2 separate regions of the Homo sapiens genome follow, and region 1 is linked to region 2. Evidence: fine-mapped expression QTL. A gene starts in region 2. The other region holds a variant in brackets. All regions are shown on one strand. Distances are between the middles of the regions. Region 1 has its middle 19 kb from the start of UGT3A2. Region 2 holds the start of NADK2-AS1 (NADK2 antisense RNA 1).

What was found. PIP is the estimated chance that this variant, and not a neighbour inherited with it, causes the effect. A credible set is the group of variants that fine-mapping cannot tell apart.
Region 1: its variant is the best candidate, but not a certain one, in a credible set for the expression of NADK2-AS1 in tibial artery (GTEx, PIP 0.70).

What each region holds. Positions count from the first base shown.
Region 1 is chr5:36,083,008-36,088,390 of GRCh38, reverse strand. No RefSeq gene overlaps it. Among named protein-coding and RNA genes, the nearest start is that of UGT3A2, 19 kb to the right of the region's middle. The variant C/T (reference allele first, on the strand shown) is at 2,611.
Region 2 is chr5:36,217,913-36,223,295 of GRCh38, reverse strand. NADK2-AS1 (NADK2 antisense RNA 1) reads right to left here and starts at 2,241. Exons shown (of 2, transcript NR_170324.1): 1 at 1,887-2,241; 2 at 1,395-1,758. NADK2 (NAD kinase 2, mitochondrial) reads left to right here. Exons shown (of 12, transcript NM_001085411.3): 5 at 3,617-3,700.

The DNA of each region.
Region 1 (5,383 bases), 130 kb after region 2:
ACAGAGCCTTGTTCTGTTGCCCAGGCTGGAGTGCAGTGGTGTAATCTCGGCTCACTGCAATCTCCGTCTCCTGGGTTCAAGCGATTCTCCCACCTCAGCCTCCTGAGTAGTTGGGACTACATGTGTGCACCACCACATCCAGCTAATTTTTGTAATTTTAGTAGAGATGAGTTTCGCCCTGCTGCCCAGGCTGGTCTCAAACTCCTGAGCTCAAGTGATCCCCCCACCTCAGCTTCCCAAAGTGCTGGGATTACAGGCATGAGCCACCGTGACTGGCCGCAAAATTTAAAAGGGTTTTAAAAAGGAAAATAAATTATTATAAATCACATTAATGGTGGAAAAGAGTAAAGTCACATGACCATCACAAATGGATGCAGGAAACATTTAAATAAAATTCAATATTTATTTATGTGTTTTAAAAGTCCTAGGAAACAAGGAATAAAAGTAAACATTCATTTTCTAATAAATGTTTATCTATTTATCTATCTACCTATAAGTAAATATGTATTCGTAAACAAGAACACAAAACTACTGCAAGTATCCTTAATGCTACATTCTTTCCCTCTGAGATCCAGAACAAGCCAAGGATGCCTGCCTTCACTACTTCTGTTCAACATTGTGTGTCCCAAAATAATAAGACAAGAAAAGAGAACTGAAAGACCTAAGGATAAGGAAAAAAAGAAACAAGCTTTTATTTCTTATGACATGGTTATGTATGTGAACAATTTTAAAACTACTAATTATTAAAATTGATAAGAGAGTGGTATCTCTTAATATGGTGTTTGGGAACTTTGGTTAAGTCAGTAAACCTGAACCTCAAACTCATTATTTGTTTAAAAAAAGAGAAAGGGGTGTCTTATCATACAATACTCCTCACGGTTGCTGTGAGGATCATAATCAGATAATGCCCTTGCAAATGCCAACCATAATGCTGCCCCATAGCAGGGACTCATTTGTTAAGAAACACTGAACATCTGCATGGTTAGCTCACCCTCTTCCTTCAGGTCTTTATTGGGAAGTCATTTCTCAGAGGGGACTTTCCTGCTTTATTTTTTTCTCCTTATCACTGCCTAATATACTATATACTAATGCTCATCTCTCTACTCAAATACAAGCTCCACAGGGGATGGTTTTTGTTTGTCTTATTTGAAGAATCACCCCTGCCTGGCTCATAGTAGATGCTCAACAAATTTGTGTTGACTCAACAGATAAATGGGTGCATTTCTTTAACTGGCAGGATCAACCAGGTATAAATGAGTGAATTTAGTGAGTCACCATCCTGCCCTGATCTGGGCTACTGCATTATAATAGGTACAGGTGTATTCATTAGTATACTAGACAGGGAGACCCTCGTGCTGCTTTTTAAACCTCACCACTTCTCTGTCTCTTCCCTGTGAGTTGGGGTGGGGTGGGGAGTACAGAATTAGTTAGAATTCGTAAGAAGGGTGATGGGGCACCCAAAAATCGAGAGAAGGTTCAGAAAGGGAGACATGTGAACATCGAAGGTGGACTCTGTGTATCTCAAGTTGGTGTACTGTGTCAGTGCTGGTCAGGGCATCACTTGCCCACTTCAGCAAAGGGCCTGTCCCCTATGTGATTTCCATGGAGACCTGCCAGTCCTGGACTTCTAGGCAGGGCCAAGATGAGAGGTCAGCAGAGCAGAGCAGGAATCAAAAGGTAGAGAAAGGGCATAGAATGATTTATATTCCTCTGTGTATAGACCCAGTAATGGGATTGCTGGGTCGAATGGTAGTTCAGTTTTTAGCTCTTTGAGGGACCATCATATTGCTTTCCACAATGGTTGAACAAATTCACACGTCCACCAACAGTGTATAAGTGTTCCCTTTTCTCTGCAACCTCACCAGCATCGGTTATTTTTTTTTCTTTTTAATGGTAGCCATTCTGACTGGTGTGAAATTGTATCTCATTGTGGCTTTGATTTTCACTTCTCTATCAGTGATATTGAGCTTTCATTTCATATGCTTGTTGGCCGCATGTATGTCTTCTTTTGAAAAATATCTGTTTATGTCATTTGCCCACTTTTTAATGGGGTTGTTTTTCTCTTGTAAATGTGTTTACCTTCCTTATAGATGCTCGATATTAGACCTTTGTCAGATGCATAGTTTGCAAATATTTTCTCCCATTATGCAGTTTGTCTGTTTACTCTGTTGATAGTTTCTTTTGCTGTACAGTAGCTCTTTAGTTTAATTAGATCCCACTTGTCAATTTTTGCTTTTGTCATGATTGCTTTTGGTGTCTTTGTCATGAAGTCTTTGCCCATTCCCATATTCAGGAGGGTATTGCCTAGGTTGTCTTCCAGGGTTTTTATAGTTTGGGGTTTTATATTTAAACCTTTAATCCATGACTTGATATGATTTTGGTTCTTTTGCATTTGCTGAGGATTATTTTATATCCAATTGTGTGATTAATTTTAGAGTATGTGCCATGTGGCAATGAGAAGAATGTATATTCTGTTGCTTTTGGGTAGAGAGTTCTGTAAAGGTCTATCCGATCTATTTGGTGCAATGTTGAGTTTAGTTCCTGAATATCTTTGTTAATTTTCTGCCTCAGTGATCTGCCTAATACTGTCAGTGGAGTGTTAAAGTCTCC[C/T]ACTATTATTGTGTGTGAGTCTATGTCTCTTTGTAGGTCTCTAAGAACTTGCTTTAAGAATCTAGGTGCTCCTGTGTTGTGTGCATATATCTTTAGGATAGTTAGGTCTTCTTGTTGAATTGAACTCTTGACCATTATTATAAAATGCTTTGTCTTTTTTTATCTTTGTTGGTTTGAAACCTGTTTTATCTGAAATTAGGAATGCAGCCTGCTTTTTTTTTTGTTTTCCATTTGCTTGTTAGATTTTCCTCCATCCCTTTATTTTGAGCCTATGGCTGTCATTTCATGTAAGATGGGTCTCTTGAAGACAGCATACCATTGGGTCTTGCTTTTTTTTTATTCCAGCTTGCCACTCTGTGCCTTTTAAGTGGGGGCATTTAGCCTGTTTACATTCAATTTTAGTATTGATATGTATGTATTTGATCTTATTGTGGTGTCAGCTGGCTATTATGTTGGCTTGGATGGTGTGGTTGTTTTATAGTGTCACTGGTCTGTGTACTTCATGTGTGTTTGTAGTGATTGGTAACAGTATTTTCTTATATTTAGTGCTTTTTGCAAGATCTCTTATAAGACTCCCTCAACATTTGCTTATCTGAAAAGGATCTAATTTCTCCTTCGTTTAGGAAGCTTAGTTTGGCTGGATATGAAATTCTTGGTCGAAGATTTTTTTTGTTTAAGAATGTTCACTATAGGCCCCCAATCTCTTCTGGCTTGTAGGTTTCAGCTGAGAGATTTGCTGTTAGCTTGATGGTGTTCCCCTTGTAGGTGACCTGCCCTTTCTCCCTAGCTGCCTTTAACATTCTTTCTTTCATTTTGACCTTGGAAAATCTGACCATTATATGTCTTGGGAATGATCTTCTTGTAGACCCTTTAGGAGTTCTCTGTACTTCCTGAATTTGGCTGTTGGCTTGTCTAGCAAGGGTGGGGAAGTTTTCATGGATGATATCCTGAAATATGTTTTCCAAGTTGTTTGCTTCCTGCCCTCCCTTCCCTGCCCATTCAGGGATGCCAGTGATTCATAGATTTGGCCTCTTTACATAATCCCACACTTTTTGGAGGTTTTGTCCATTCCTTTTTATTCTTTTTTCTTTATTTTTGTCTGGTTTTCTTATTTCAAAGAACCAGTCTTTAAGTTCTGAGATTCTTTCCTCAGCTTGGTTTATTCTGCTAATTCTTGTGATTGCATTGTGAAATTCTTGTATTGTGTTATTCAGCTCTGTCAGATCCATTAAGTTCTTTTTTATACCAGATATTTTGTCCTTCAGCTCCTGTATCACTTTATCTTGATTTTTATTTTTTATTTTTTTGGATTAGGTTTTTCCATCCTCCTGAACCTCAATTATATCTGTTCCTATCCATATTCTGAATTCTATTTCTGTAATTCCAGCCAGTTCATCCTGGTTAAGAACTCTTGTTGGTGAACTGGTGCAGTTGTTTGGAGGACAAGGTTGTCCTCAATCTTGTTTCAATCACAAACAGCATCTAGAATTACTAAACTCATACAACACTTTGGTCATTTGAGTAACTGGAGTTTTTGCGTTGGTTCCTTCTCATCTCTGCATGTGGGTGTTCCTTTAACTGCAGTGTATGTTAAGTACAGCCAATAGACTTCTTTTCTGGATGTTTTCATTGGGCCATGGCTTCATGCAGGGTCTTTATTTGTAGCTGACTTCTTGTCTCTGGTTTCAGGAGGGTATGTTAGTGAGGTATTTTTGGTGTTGAAGCTTTAGGGTGTGATCCAGTAGGTGGAACTTAGGCTTATTGGTTAGTTGGTAAACTCTTACTTGGTTATGTGTCTCCCTTATGTTTCCTCATGGTTACAACTGTGTTCCTTCTTAATGCTCTGAGGGTGTGGGTTTCTCTCCCCATTGAGTGCTGGCTGTAGATCATGGCTTGGCATTCTTGGGCTTTCCACTACAGCTCTGGGGTGATCTCAGTGTTTATGTTCCTTTCCCAACTTGAAAGGAGCAAAAGAAGGGATCTTAGTAGTGGTTGTGGCCAAGGGCATTTTGCTTGTCTTCTAGGGGTTCCACCCCAGAGAGATGCAAGTCAGCAAATGCTGAGTGCAATCAGCTCAGGATGAAGGGTCTGTATTGTGGACCAAGCCAGGGGTTCCCTGTCTTAAGATGAGCAGTGAGGGGTATGTGGGACCCATGGGAGATGGACTGGCCTCCTCTCCTTAGGTCAACTGCAGCTTATTGGAGGTGTGAACAAAGCACTTAGGGTCTTTGCTTGTTTGTTAGTTGAAGGGTAGCAAAGGCAGTTCTACTGCAGAGGCAGTGGCAGAGAGGCTTTCAATTGCCCCTGGAGGCTCTGTCCAGAGAGTTGCCAGATTGCTACTGGCTTGATAGCTCTGGGGTTGGGGGCAGTTGCTGGAGGCCGAGGGCTGGAGGACATGCCTGATGAGGAGATATCGGAAAGGGCACCCATATTACGGTCTGGCCACTTTTCCATAGGGCTGTTGCAGTATGCTGGGGGTGCACTCCAGTCTGCAGTCACCTCAGATTTTCCAGTACCTAGAGGTATCACCATTGAAGGCTGTAAAACAGCAAAGATTGAGCTCTGTCCTAGGGAGGTATGGACCTGTTGCTGGCCCATACACACCTATAGGAGGTGGCTGGAGATCCTGGTTGGGAGGCCCTGTCTGGTGAGGAGGAAAGGATCGGGGACCTGGTTAAAAAAACAGTCTGGCCACATTTTCGTAGAGCAGCTGTGCTGTGCTGGGGGTCCACTTCAGCCCCTGATCGCCTTGGACTCTCCAAAATCTAAAGGC
Region 2 (5,383 bases):
GCAGCCAGCGTGATTATTTTATGGAAGTTTGATAATATTATGTAACTTCTCTGCCTAGATTTTTTTTTTGTCGTGGCTCCCCATCTAACTTAGGGTAAAATCTACCTTTTTACTATGAATAGGGTGACAAACTTCTCCTGGTTTTCTTGGAACTTTCCTGGTTTTAGCACTGAAAGTCCTGTGTCCCAGGAGAATGTCAGTCCCAGGCAAAGCAGGGAACAGTTGGTCACCTTAAATGTGACATACAGGCTGTACATTATCTGGCCCTTTACCAGTTCTGTCCTTATTGCCTATTATTTTTCCCTTCATTCTATTCTAGCCACACTGGCCTCTACTTTGGATATATCCAGTGGTATTAAAATTGTAACATGTACCAATAAACTCTCCTTTCCTCTCTCCCATCATTCTTGATGAATGAAATCATCTGTGCTGAAGCTGTAACTACCTCTCCCTCACTCTATCATCAAATTGGTCCTAAGTTCTAGGGAACTTACTTTTGAGTCCATCTCTTGCCATCCTCGCTGCCACTAAAAATAGCTCAGCCCTTTATAGTTTGTTTAAATTACTGAACTAGCTTACAGTCTCTCTCCTTCTAACTCATCCTTTACACATTGCCTTAGTCTTCTTTCTAAAGTGCAGATCTAATTGATTATATCCACTTCTTATTAAATCTTTTAGAGTTTCCCATGACCTTCAGGATACATTGTAAATTCCTTAGCATAATACATATTATCTTTCACTGTCTCTTGCCTGTTTGCTTTTCTAGTTTCACCTGTCCTCATATGTCCACAGGCATGACACATTCTTTAGCTTAAAAAATATATTTTTGGAAACTTTTCTAGGATCAGCCTGGGATCCTTTCTAAAAGGCTGTTCTTAACTGCAAAATGTAACTATATGAGTGTCCACCAACATGCTGGTTAGAGGCTCACACAGGGATGCTTTTACTCTGGTGGGGAGCTTTGTTGATATGATGACCCAAGGCGTGATTTGAGAGTAGGTGAAAGAGTTCTCCAGAAGGCCTATGTCCCCCTAACCCACCCACCCATGCCTTTGTATGTGCTTTTGTCAAAAGTTCCCTTATACCACTTACTCACTTCTGTGTTTCTTGTTTGTTCAAGACTGGTGTTTCTCCTGGGTTGTAATTCCCTCTACAGAAAGCACTTATCCCTATATATTTATTTTCTGTTTCTTTTTCTCTTTCATTAGACTATAAATTCCTTGAGTATAGGACCTTGTATTTTAATTTCTCTGTCACTAGCATAGTTTTATACATAGCTGGTAGGCAATAAATGAATTGAAAAATGAATGATTGATTCAGTGATTTTAGGGAATAGGGATAGAACCCCAGTCTAGCTGAGTAAATATTCCCTGAATGTAAATAATAGAGATCATTGGTTCAGTAATTAATTTTTAATTGCCATCAGTGTTGATGCATTTGGGTTTTAGAACTTCTTAATGGCTTATTTTTATATCATTAAGGTAAAAGATCACTTTAGTGATCATATGTTACACAGTTTATTGAACTATATTTTCTTTTGGAAACTGGCTTCATATTCATAAATTTGTGGGAATTTGAAGCTGGCAAGCAATTGTTAATATTGTCATCTCTTCTCTATTTTCTAGCTAGAAGAACAGGTGTTAGAAGTTCTTTGGTTTCTCTTCTTGCCTCCAGGCAGATATGTTAAATTGCCTTCTGGTTTTGTGTATGCTTCAAGTTGTCTGATTTCTTTATCTTAAATATAGTGGTGTCTCAGTCCTTAAAAAAAGCCCAGAAGTTAATGTTCAACTTAAGTTTTTTCTCCTATTTATTAGTTGTCAAATGCTGCATAACTAATCACCCCAAAACTTAGAGGCTTATGACAGTAACAGTGTATTATTTCTTACGGGTTGTGCATGTCGGAGTTCAGGAGCAGTTTGGCTGGGTGGTTTTGGCTTGAGATCTCTCCTGAGGATAAGTAGATGTCAGCTTGGTCTGTAGGCATCTGAAGGCTTGACTTGGGCTGGAGGATCCACTTTCAAGATGGCCCACTCACATGGACTCATCTAAATCAAATGTGTAATTTCTATCCATCTCTTCTGTATTCTATAGCCACTCTACCGAGCCTGGTAAATAATTACAACATTTGAAAGCTTAATATTCAAAATGGGATAGAGGGCATGTGGTAGTCAGCCTCCAAGGTAGCTTCCTAGTATTTAGGTACCCTTTAATGTACTCCTCCCTGCCCCCCAATATTCAATCAAGGATGGCCTGTGTGACCAGTAGAATATGATGTGAGAATGTGTAGGTTCCAAGGCCAGGTCATAAATGGTATTGCAGCATCTGTATTGGTCTTTAGGATTGTTCATTGTGGGGTAGGACAGCCACCATGATGTGAGGATACTCACAAGCAGCTCTGTGGAGAGGCTCACGTAGAGGGTGATTGAGGCCTCCTGCCAATGGCCAGCACCAATTTGCCAGCCATGTGAGTGAGCAACCCTGGAAGTGGTCGTGCTAGTCCAAGTCAAGCCTTCAGATGCCTGCCGCCCTAGCTGATATCTGACTGTAACCTCATGAGAAAGTCTTCTCTCTGCAAGGGTTTTAGACTTGCAGTTGACCTCAGCAGGTATTATTCTATCAAATGACTGTTGATACCTTTTATATACTTAACATTGTGTGAACTATTACAATGAATATAAAAATTTAAAAACCTAGGCCTTACGCTTTCTTAACCTCAGTGTTGACCTGCTTAGATAAAGAAGTTGACTATTCACAACTTTGTAAAAACACTTTTCTGTGCCCTTCACGCTTACAAGTTGATTTACATTTATTATCAGGAGTTTGTTTTGCTAAGCCTACCCTCAGCCTTTTCTTCAAGATTGGAGTATCATTAAATGATGATGACTGAGCCTTCTGGACATCTTTAGGTGCCACATACTCTCATCTACACCAACCAATAGGCAATCTTACCACCTTATAATTTGCAATGGTTTGTTTTAATTTGTCTTCCACATCAAGCTATGAACTCCTTAAAGGAGTTTCATTATTTATGTATTTTTGAATAAATGAAGGATTACATTGGATTAAGCTTTCTCAGTTCTTTTTTAGTGACTTAGGATATCTTAAATGACATTTCAGAAAGGATTATGGTTCAAAACATTTCACATAAATATTTTGATTCCTTTTGAGATTGCTGGTTTATCCTGATTTTGGAGATGAGGAAGCTGATGCTAAAGTGACTTGCCCAAAGTTAATAGTTAAATAATTTAAAGGTTAGAATAAAAATTGGAAGGTTAGTAGTTAAATAATGATTTGAACAACACTGTACCATTAAATAACTTTACAGGGTAATTAGTAGCAGATTTGCTGCTATTTTTAGTTTCATTGTAACGTAGAAACTCACATATTATTATGTATTATGGCATTAAAGCTGGATGTAGACTACTAATTCTATCTGGTCTTTTTTGTTTTTATTTAAAGAACACAATTTTGTGGCAAAAAATGGAATATAGGGTAGACATTTTTAGAATTTCATTTCTTATTTTTATAGCTTAGTGATACCTTTTGATTAAATTTTTTTGCTTCACCTTTTTTCTTTTCCTCTTTATATCACCAAAAAATTCCTGTTAAAATATAGGTCTGAGGGTCATTTATGCCTGCCCGTTCGATATACACATTCCTTTCCAGAAGCCTTACAGAAGTTCTATCGTGGTGAGTTCAGGTAGGAATTTCTTACGGTTGTTCTTATGTAAGTATCTTAATAAGTATGTGCCATTAATAATGCTGTTAAAAAACAGAACAAATCAGGCAGGGCACGGTATCTCACGCCTGTAATCCCAGTACTTTGGGAGGCCGATGCGGGTGGATCACTTGAGCTCAGGAGTTTGAGACCAGCCTGGGCAACATGGTGAAACCTTGTTTCTACAAAAAATACAGAAGTTAGCTGGGCATGGTGGCAAGCACCTGTAGTCCCAGCTACTTGCGGGGCTGAGTTGAGAGGATCACTTGAGCCCAGGAGGTAGAGGTTCCAGTGAGCCGAGATCATGCCACTGCACTCCAGCCTGGGTAACAGAGTGAGACTGTGTCTCAAAACAAACAAACACACAAAAAACCAGAACAAATCAGATAATGTTTGGATTACTCCATAGATATAACAGTAGCCATTAAAAGTAATGTATTAGCTGAGTCACAAATAGGTCTAATTTACCTTCTCCTAGTCCAGTTGGAATTGTGGAGAGAAACCCTGACAAATATTGGTTGGCCTATAATATAACTGCATATAGAAATTTTTTTTCTCCTTCAGTGAGATAGCAGGCATGTCTCTACTTTCTTAACCTCGTTACATGTCCTTATCAGTTTAGTGGAAAGGTAATTAAAACTTTGGCTAAAATTGTTTGAATTTTCAGATTTTATATTTTTTATCTTTATCTCCCATCTAGTAATGATTGAGAGCTGGATTTAATCCAACCATGCTGAGATTCCTGGTATCTGTCTCACATAAAAGTATTTCTTAAGCAGTGGGGATGGGATTTTTAAAAGTTTCTTTTACTTAATGTGTTCAGTGGTCAGACCATCAGGAAAAGAGGAAGGTGGAGGAAGGAGCATGAGGTTGGCCAATTATATTTGAGAGAGCTAAGTTGGACTACTTTTTATTTCCTGACTTGGACTAGATTTTATAGTTGGGGAAAGCTTTTCCCACAGATGTTTGTGAAGTTGTATTAGATCTTCTTTTCAAGAATCATTTCATTACCAGTAATTCTAGTTTCTAGTCATTTCAGAAGTTTGACAAGAAATGGCTAATTTATAGCTACCAAGTGGAAGTATATTTTTGTATACTTACCTAGCAGAATCTGTCCCATTGACTTTCGATACATTGATTATCAGTTTTGAAATCAATTAAACCTGATTGTTTTTTTCCTTTTACCAGAGATGTTATTTAAATTTTTAGGTGTAATCAACACTTTTATTTATTGTTTCTTAATCCTTTTTTCCTTTTATTGTTTTAAAAAACCTCCATTATAAAATTTGTGGAGAGGGATTTTTATCTAATCCAGCCATCTGAACACAATATTATTTTAATTTAAGAATGCTTTCCTTTTTGTATAATATTTTTTGCTGAGCAAAGCACAAGCTATATCTAGCTCAGTATCTTGGACTTTATGGGTTCTTGATAGAGTTTGACTTAATTTAAGTTACTTGGGAGATTTTGTACAAGCACATTAGGTGTTTCCGTTATAATTGAAAAGAGAATAAATATTCAAATCTGTCATTGATAAGGAAGCTATAGGCTTTAGGTGTTTCTGATATAATTTATTCATGGAATAACTGGTAACTAGTTTTTATTAACTATTTAATTTGGTTAAATTATTATAATGTCTACTCTTTAATTTATTCTATTTTAACA